2 linked regions of the Homo sapiens genome follow. The protein of the gene in region 2 interacts with the protein of the main gene of each other region in a pairwise test. Each region holds a gene or a part of one and is shown on either strand. Other genes may lie near its edges.

Evidence for each region. The genes of interacting proteins can lie anywhere in the genome.
Region 1: the proteins of RAP1B (region 2) and RALGDS interact in binary tests that used the Homo sapiens proteins (3 or more experiments, as listed by UniProt).

Annotation. Positions count from the first base shown.
Region 1 is NC_000009.12:133,104,229-133,111,268, forward strand, and holds part of RALGDS (ral guanine nucleotide dissociation stimulator), read right to left. Parts: intron 6,262-7,040; coding exon 6,068-6,261; intron 5,494-6,067; coding exon 5,398-5,493; intron 4,639-5,397; coding exon 4,445-4,638; intron 4,179-4,444; coding exon 3,760-4,178; intron 3,073-3,759; coding exon 2,857-3,072; intron 2,521-2,856; coding exon 2,417-2,520; intron 1,789-2,416; coding exon 1,704-1,788; intron 104-1,703; coding exon 35-103; intron 1-34. UniProt on the Homo sapiens protein: Functions as a guanine nucleotide exchange factor (GEF) activating either RalA or RalB GTPases and plays an important role in intracellular transport. Interacts and acts as an effector molecule for R-Ras, H-Ras, K-Ras, and Rap.
Region 2 is NC_000012.12:68,669,880-68,672,422, forward strand, and holds the end of RAP1B (ras-related protein Rap-1b isoform 1 precursor), read left to right. Parts: 3' UTR 1-2,022; downstream 2,023-2,543. UniProt on the Homo sapiens protein: GTP-binding protein that possesses intrinsic GTPase activity. Contributes to the polarizing activity of KRIT1 and CDH5 in the establishment and maintenance of correct endothelial cell polarity and vascular lumen.

The DNA of each region.
Region 1 (7,040 bases), on a different chromosome or scaffold from region 2:
CCCCCTGCCCCTCCGCGGCCTTGGGCACTCTCACCGTCTCCTTCGGCCGTTTCTGGGCTCTCTTGGGGTTCATCTCCAGGGTGGCAAACTTGGAGGTGCCCTCCTGCCAGGGTAGAGGACAGGGTCAGCAAGGCCCTATCCCCTCAGCCCTCAGGCACCCTGACCTGGGGTGCTGCCAGTGTGGTCGGGTTCCAGGGCTGACCCTGTATCAATACTCACTAGTGTGGGGTCCTGGGCCGGTGGCCTGGCCTTCCTGAGCCTGCCTCCCCCTCTGGAAAGTGCGGATGAGAACTCCGCCTGCTGCATGGTGCGGTGGCTCACGCCTGTAATCCCAGCATTTTGGAAGGCCAAGGCAGGTGGATCACTTGAGGTCAGGAGTTTAAGACCAGCCTGGCCAACACAGTGAAACCCCATCTCTACTAAAAAATACAAAAATTACCTGGGTTGGTGGTGCACACCTATAATCCCAGCTACTTGGGAAGCTGAGGCAGGAGAATCCCTTGAACCCAGGAGGTGGGGATTGCAGTGAGCCGAGATCACGCCATTGCACTCCAGCCTGGGAGACAGAGCGAGACTCCTTCTCTAAACAAATAAAAAAACTCCACCTGCCTCGCAGGGCCTCAGAGACTCTGCGCTACAGTCCTGTTATGGCTGCACACTCCTTTCTCCCTTGAACCTTCCATAAGGTCAGCACCCCAGGGCTGGCATTCCTCCATTTTCTAGATGAGGAAACTATGGCCCTGAGATGGGCAGTGACTTGCCCTGGGCCCCCCAGGGACTCAGAACAGGCTCTTCTGTCCTAGCCAGAGGCTCTGCCCCATCTGCCTTTACCCGTTTGGTCACTGATCAGGGTACCGTCCTCTGGGCTTCTCGTGCATGCCAGGGCCCCCAGTGGAGCTGTGCCACGGAGGGAGAGGGACAGGTGTCCCAGGAGCCCCCTGCGATGCTCCCCTGTAGGGAACTCTGTGTGTGTCCACGCAGGAGGGGGGCCCTAGATGCCATTTCACTGACCGGGTATGCCAGGGGCACCAGGCAGTGACACTTGACTCCCTCTGAGGCCTCGTGAATCCATTAGTCACTGAAAGTTCTCCTCAGTCATCTGGGGTATCCGCCACAGCTAATGGGGTGCCATGGGAAGAATTCTACAGGGTTCTCTGGTCAGTGTCTCTTCTCGGGGCAGGGTAGGGAAGCCACATGGGGCCTCCAAATCTGCCTCCCAGGTCTGGCCACCTGGCCCCTGGCATCCCCTGCAGCTCCTGTCCCTGGGGTAGGCAGGCTGCCCTCTCCTTGGGTGTGTAGAGCAGACAGAGGTAGCGTCAGGAGCCTGGCCTCCCGGGGACAGACTGGGCCGGTGTGGGGGCAGGAGCCGCATCCCCTTCCCACCCAGCAGGAGGGACCGGCGAGGAAGCCAGAGGCCTGCTGGTCCTGATGCCCATCTACTCCTCCTGGAACCTCCACTGCTACCCTTACTGTGTCCAATTAACTGGGGCCCTGTCCCTCAAACACCCAGGGGCCAAACAGATCCCTCTTCCCCCTTCACGCACACGGGAAAGGAACTTTCCCAGCAAGAAGCGAATGCCACCGCCCGCCGCCCCAGCCCCCGCCCCAGCCCCCGCCCCAGCCCCCGCCCCAGCCCCAGCCCCCGCCCCAGCCCCCGCCCCAGCCCCCGCCCCAGCCCCCGCCCCAGCCTGCCGCCACTCCACCTTGATGAGCAGCTCCCGGCTCAATGAGTAGTTGTTCTCATCTGAGAAGATCTCTGACAGCTTCTGAAAGATCCGGAAACTGTCCCTGTCAGAAGGGCAAAGAAGGAAAGAGAAAGCTGGGAATGGTAGGGAGGGGTGTGAGTGCAAATCCGTTTTATTTTAGAGCTGAAAGACCCCAGACTGCCTGAACGCAGCACACAGGGTACCCCAGAGCACTAACGCTCTGCAGGTCTGGGGAGGGGGCCTTCATGTTGGTGCAACAGGACCCCATTCCCGTTTCCACTGAGCAGCTATTTCCAAAGGGGTTTTTTTCTTTTTTTGGAGACAGTTTCAGTCACCCAGGCTGGAGTGCAGTGGCCAGATGTCGACTCATTGCAACCTCTACCTCCTGGGTCCAAGAAATTCTCCTGCCTCAGCCTCCCAAGTAGCTGGGATTACAGGCGTTAGCCATTGCGCCTGGCACAAAGGTTTTGATTTCAATTGGATGAGGGTTCTGTGGCTACAACACGAATACCTGAAAATCTCTGATGTGGCTCAACCCACCATCTGACAGCTTAGGAAGCCGAGCTCTGAGGCAGAGCTGCTGCCAACTCAGGTCAGTGAAGGGTCCCTGCCCTCAGGGTTTGTGGCCTCCCATGGGCTCACTAAGGGGGTGATGCCAGCCCTGTGGGAGGTCCCTGGTGCACCAGGAGCTCCTACAGAGGCATGCCCACCTGGAAACGTCTTCCCACGTCTTCTTCAGACGGTGGATGGAGTTGCTCTGCAGGGCAGAGAGGATGGCATACAGTGACGAGAAGTTCTTGAGGATCCGGCACTCCTGGGGCGGGAAGAGCAGGAGGCATGAGGTGGGGCTGGAGCTCCCAGCTTGCCTGGCCTCAGTCCCCCTTGGCCAAGCCTCCCCTCCTAATGAGACAGACACCCAGGGAGTCCCCAGAGGGCACGCCTGCGACCCGGGGGTGACAGGAGGATTTTAGCTCAACCCAAGGAAAGAGTGTAAGGAAGACGTGAGCATCCAGGCAGTGGGCTGGGAGAGTCAAGGCCAGCATGCCCCTGGGAAGGGTAGACTGGGGCCTGTACAGGGCCTTGGACTGCAGACCACAACCTGAGAACAGATGAAGCCAAAGTGGGGGCCCAGGCCCCTCCTCTGGCATACCCTGGCCACCTCGATCCAGTGCTCCACCACCCTGGCCCTGTCTGGGGCTTTCGTGCTTCGGTTCCCGAGGCAGGTGGTGATGACACAGTTGGCCACACTGTTGAACTGGGTGACAGTGGCGCGGATGGTGGGCGCCAGGTGCTCCTTGCCCTTCTTGTCCCGCTGGGACCAGATGGAGCCCAGGCAGTGGTAGGGCACCACCTTCTTGAACAGTTCCTGGGGAGGAGGCTAAATGTCACCTGGTCCTGCCCCAGCAGTCTGGGCTGGTGCTGGGGAAGCTGAGGATGCAGCTTGAGCCTTGTGGGGATCTCTGGGTTTTATCCCGTGTCCATGCAGGGTGCCCAGCACACAAGTGACCCGGGACAGAACGCTGGTGGGAAGAAGAGGAGCACCGCCTCGCGCAGCCTCACCAAGCCCCAGCTCCAACAGGCGGCTCACGCCTGCCCACCCCCCATCCCCCCGCCTCAGTCTGCTCCCCATCCAGACGCACATCTGCTGTGGGCGCTACAACTAAGGGCTTTGTCCAGTGTCTGCCATAGGCTCCAGGACACACCAAGTGCCTAATGAGTGCTGAGGCTGGTGAGCCTCCTGAACAGATGGGGGTGACCCATGGATGCACCTTGGTGAGCACCCTCCGCTCCCACAGGCCAGGCCTGCTGAGCTTCCTGTCTGTTCCATCTAGAATCTGCACAGTCACTCTGGAGGATAGGGGTGACCTCATCTCTACTGTCCAGAGGTAAACTGAGGACTTGGGGTTAAGGAACGACCTGGTTACTTGGTGTGTAGCAGCAGAGCTGGGATTTGACCAGAACATCAGCTCTGGATCAGCAAATGGTAGGTCTGGGACAGCAGATGCTGCCAGAAGGCAGGCCCACCCCTGCCCTGCCAAGCTGAGCTGCTCACCGCATCCATCAGTGTAAACTGCTCTGCCACCAGATCTGGAGGGAACACCAAGAGGTGAGGCTTCTCCTCACTCAGCCCGTTCTCTGCAACCACAGGTGAAGGCCAGGAAGGCTGTAATGATGGAACTGGTGCTGGAGCTGGCTCCAGCTCTAGAGTTTGTGAGGGAGCTGGATCCTGTTCTGGAGCTGGCTCTAGTTCCAGAGCTGGCGCTGGAGCCGATTCTAGTCCCACAGCTGGCTCTGGAGCCTGCTGGAGCTCCGGAGCTGGTGCTGGAGCTACTTCTAGCTCTGAACCTGGAGCTGGTGTTGGAGCTGGCTCTGGCTCCGGGGCTGGAGCCGGCACTGGGCTGGGTGCTCGAGCTGGTGTTAGAGCTAGCTCGAGCTCTGGAGTTGGTTTTAGAGCTGGCACTGGTGACAGAGCTGCAAGAGGAGAAAAGTTCAACAACATGCCAGCCTTTCCTGTGCCTTTCCAAAGACACAGAACAGCCCCGGCTTCCAGAGAAGCCTCTCTCCCCGAACCCACAAAACGTGTACCAGGCCACTCTCCTGCCTGTGGTCCCTGCCTGTGTGGTCTGAGGCTCATCTGGGCCCCTGACCCAGCACCAGACCCTGGAGCCTCCTCTTCGTGTGGCCCAGCACCGACCCCTCCTCATTCACCCTCTGGCACCCACCCCAGTCCTCCTCACCCTCAGGCTCTGCCTCAATGGGTTCCGAGTGCTCCAGCTGGGCCAGGAGAAGGTGGGCACGGCGCTCCAGGTCTGAGCCTGGCATGTTGAGCTGCACGTAGGCCACCAGCTGCTTGAGGCAGGGAAAGTCCGGAGGTTGACAGAAATCCTCCGAGTACTGGTCCAGCCAGGTGCCCAGGATGGAGGAGATGGCACTGGGGACAGGTGGGTGGCAGCAGAGTCAGAGGCCTGGGCTCCCCTGAGCCAGGCTGGGCTCCTGAGCCGGCCCCTGTCCATCTGAAGGCCACCTGCCCCGGCCCAAGCCCCCTTGGCTGTCCAGCTAAAAGAACCAAGGAGGCCCCTGGTCAGTGGCGAACACCTCTCCCCTCCTCCAAGGAAGCCCCGCCCACAGCTCTGCATGTCTCCCAGCACCCCCTCCTCGCTGGAATGTAAACTCCATGAGGGATCGGTCCTCCTGCCGGGCATCTGCAGGTCCCTGGCGGCTCCTCAACTTGTAGCTCAGTGCTGGTGAGCTGCCTTACTCTCTCAGAGCTGTGTGTGGGTCTCATCTTCCCACTAATCCTGTTCTCCCAGAGGGTGGGGTGCAGCCTGCCCACTGAGCACTCACTATTGAGGGGTGAGGCAATGTGAGAGCAGAGGCTCACCCCACCTCTTGCCAGGGGCCCCTAGATCAGGGCCCACTGAGCCAAGGCCAGCTGGGATGAGGCTATGGTGGGATGAGTTCCCGCCGGGGGCTGCCCCGAGCCCCAGCCACCCCAGGACCCCTCCACAGCTCTCGGTCGTCTTTCTTCCTGCAGGCGAAGCCCCCAGACCCCAGCCCTCTAGCAGGAACCACAAGAGGTGTGGGAGCCAGGGTTCTGCCCAGCCAGCCCCGGCTCCGGCCCCAGCCCCATGTACTCTCCCACTGTTCGGTGGGGACAGGGTCCCTTCCTCTTGGCTCAAAGCTCACTCACTTTTTAAGTTGGTCCTGGGGTCCACCATCCTCGTCGGAATAGGGGAGGATGCAGCCGTATCTAGAGGAGGCCGTGAGGGCGTCACATCTACCGTACCTGCTTATGACGTCTAGTGTTACTGTCTGACTCTCCGACTAGAACGGAGGCCCAGGAGGGCAGGGATTTTTTTTTTTGCTTTTTTTCATCAAATTATATTAAATGCCTAGAAAAGGGCCAGCACACAGTAGGTGCTTCATATATATTTGTTCAATGAATAAGTCCCAACCAGCTCCTTCCCAGCTATCTGAGCGCCCCTTGGGTCCCTCCAACAGCCCCCAGATAGAATCCGGAATCTCCTTGACAAGTGGGAAAACTGCTTCGCCCAAGGCCACATACAAGAGAGGCTTGGGGCAGAGAGCTTCCCCATGGGGGACAGGAAAATCATAAAAACGAGCACCACAGCCCCGCAGCCCATTCCCTACAGGGCCAGGCGTTGAGGGAGCACTTTCCACGCCTCATCCCGCCCAGGCATGGTGACAACCCCATGAGGTCCTCTTAGCACTCCAGTTTCTCTTTCATATGAGCAAAGCGAGGCTCAGAGAGGTGAATCAGCATTGCCAAGACCCGCAGCCAGGTGGGGGTGGGGGCGAGGGCCCCTGTGCACCCTGTGCAGTGGAGGGCTCATGCTCACCTTTTGAACAGCAGGTCCAGGACCTGTTGGGTGGTGGTGAAGGCTCTATAGGTACACAGGAAGATGGTGACGTAGGAGAGGTCGCTGCCCTGGAAGGCTGGCACCAGGTGCTCCACCAGCTTCTCCAGCGTGCCAGCCTTCACGGTCCGCACCTTGCAAGTCTCATAAAGGTTCAGGGCCGACTCATTCTCATACTGGGGTGGGACAGAGGAGGGACAGACAGTCAGTGGCAGCACACGAATCTCCTGGAGCTCAGATGGAACCCCGAGCCCTCAGCAGCTTGTGGCAAGAGGCAGGACTGAGTATCTCTAGCAGAAAAAGGTTATCAGCTTTAAAAGTAGAATTTCAGGCCAGGTGTGGTGGCTCACATCAGTCATCCCGGCACTTTGGGAGGCCAAGGTGGGAGCATCACTTGAAGCCAAGAGTTTGAGACCAGCCTGGGCAACAAAGTGAAATCCCCCAGCTCTACAAAAAAATTGTTTACAAAACTTAAAAATTAGCCAGGGCCAGGCATAGTAGCTTACGCCTGTCATCCCAGCATTTTGGGAGGCTGAGGTGGGCAAATTGCTTGAGCCCAGGAGTTTGAGACCAGCCTGGGCAACATGGCAAAACCCCATCTCTACAAAAAATACAAAATTAGCCAGGTGTGGTGGTCCCAGCTACCTGGGGAACTGAGGTGAGAAGATCGCTTGAGCCCAGGAGGTCAAGGCTGCTGTGAGCTATGATCATACCTCTGCATGGCAGCCTGGGTGACAGAGTGAGACCCTGTCTCTAAAAGAGTGAAAAAATTTTTAAAGTAGAATTTGAGGTGCGGGAATGATTTAAATACTGACACCTTCAGGTCCGTTGTTAGCTGAGTAATGGTAGCTGCCCTGTGGGAAGAGCGTCATCTGAGAGCTCTAACAAAATATCCCCATTCTAGAGATGAGGAAACAGAGGCTTATCCAGGGGCTGGGAGGGACTGGCCCGTTAG
Region 2 (2,543 bases):
ACTAGATTCCAGTATATGACGTTTATACGTGACAAAAATATATTTCTTTTTCTTTCTTTTTTTTTTTTTTTTTTTTGAGACAGTTTCCCTCTTGTTGCCCAGACTGGAGTATAATGGCACGATCTTGGTTCACCACAACCTCCGCCTCCCAGGTTCAAGTGATTCTCCTGCCTCAGCCTCCCGAGTAGCTGGGATTACAGGCATGTGCCACCACGCCTGGGCTAATTTTGTATTTTAGTAGAGATGGGGTTTCTCCATGTTGGTCAGGCTAGTTGCGAACTCCCAACCTCAGGTCATCTGCCCGCCTCAGCCTCCCAAAGTACTGGGATTACAGGTGTGAGCCACTGTGCCCGGCCGACAAAAATATATTTCAATAGAAAATAGTATCAGTAAAATGCTAGCACAACTAACTATCTGTCTAAAGACAATAAAAGTTCAACCCCTATATCATGCAAAAAGCACTTTCCAGATATATTAAAATGTTTTCAAGCTATAAAGTAAAACAGTAGAAGTCTTAGAAGAAAATCTAAGAGACTAGAAATCTAGAGATAGGGTAGACCTTCTTAGCTAATTTTTAAAAATGAAGCTATATTTAAGATATATATTTCAAGTAAATAATAAGTGTGTGTGTGTGTACACACAGATGCTTCTCAGCTTACAATGGGGTTATGTCCCAATAAGCCCATCAGAAGTCAAAAATGTAAGTCGAAAATGCATTTAATACCCTGATAAATCCATCACAAAGCTGAAAAATTATAAGTAAAACTGTAAGTCACAGACTGTATATATAAATTTAAAATTTGGCAAAATATATTGCAAAGTCAAATTTGGGAAAGTATAGCACAGATAAAAGATTAAACTATTCACGGCCAGGCACGGTGGATCATGCCTGTAATCCCAACACTTTGGGAGGCCGAGGCGGGTGGATCACCTGAGGTCAGGAGTTTGAGACTAGCCTGGCCAACGTGGAGAAACCCCATCTCTACTAAAAATACAAAATTAGCTGGGTGTGGTGGTGCATGCCTGTAATCCTAGCTACTCAGGAGGCTGAGGCAGGAGAATTGCTTGAACCTAGGAGGCGAAAGTTGCAGTGAGCCAAGATGGTGCCATTGCACTCCAGCCTGGGCAACAAGAGTGATACTCCGTTTAAAAAAAAAAAAAAAAAAAAAGGTAAACTATTCAAAAGATAAATGGTTGAAAGATATATAACTAGGCAGTTTAGATAAGAACAAATCCAAATGGCCCATCAACATAAAAAGATGCTCTAACTGTAGCCAGAGAAATACGAATCAAAGTACCAACGAGCCCAACACATGGACGAAAACTTCAGAGAACACTACAGTCCCAGAAGAGAGGTAAAGGGCAAGAAATGAATCATTTATTGCTGATGGAAATGTGCATTGTAGAGCTGATATCTGTTCAAATTAAATATGCATATTTGACCTCAATTCTACTACTGATATCTACACCAAGGAAATGAAAGGAAATGCACAAGATTATTTATTGCCACACTCTAGAAGGAAAAACAGAGTGCATGCCCATCAATAGAATAGTTGAATAAATTATGATTCATGCATAATATAGAACATTATGCATTCATTTAAAAATGAGTTTGATGTTTAAAGGTTGACTTAGAAGGATTCCCGTGCAAAGTGAACAAAACAGAATACCGAGAAGGATGTATGTGAGGGATGCATGTGGGCACCTGGGAAAGGAGATGAAGAAAGCAACTGAAGGATATTTACCAAGTTGTTAATATGCATTACCTGACATGGTGATATAGGAGTAGGGGTGAGGAAGTGAAGGATCTGAGTAGGTGGAAAAAGAAAAGCAAAAGTACAACAGCGGGAGAAAAAACAGGATGACTCGTCTAGAAGAGACATTGTCAGTAACAAGTAAATAACATTTTCTGGAATATAAAAAAAAAAGCTATATGAATGTCATCATTATATGTAAAATATGAATGTAAAATACATGGGAGGATAATATGCATTAATAAAAATTATGGTGCTGGCAACAGTATCATGGATGACTGTATTATTATTTCCTTTTCCTTAACATTGTTATGCTATCTTTGAGTAAAATTAATTTTAGAAATTTAAAAATAATTGTCATTATACTTAAACCTTATATTTAAACAAGAAAATAATTCAAAAAACCAAAGCAGTTTAACTTTCTTTCATTACCTGAAATTCAGCCTTTTTACACAGCTAGAGAACTTCAGTTGATCTTGTGAAGGACAAAGAAGCAGAAAGACTTCTCTAGGATGTTGGGTTTCCTAAAAGTTAAACTCAATCATTTAAAGTTGCAAATAGGTAGGCAGGATGGATTCTGAAGCACAGATTTCCCAAATGCCCTTTTTGCAGCAGATTCAGCTTCTAAACAAGTTTCAAGGGCAATGTTCATGATAGACGCAACTTTTTCTTAACATTATATTGCATTGTCAATATGTATTCCATCATTTTATGCTTTTCAATGCACTTCCATTTATAAAAGCCGCATAGTTTGCTCTTATATGCCAATATGTTTGTAGCTCAAAATAT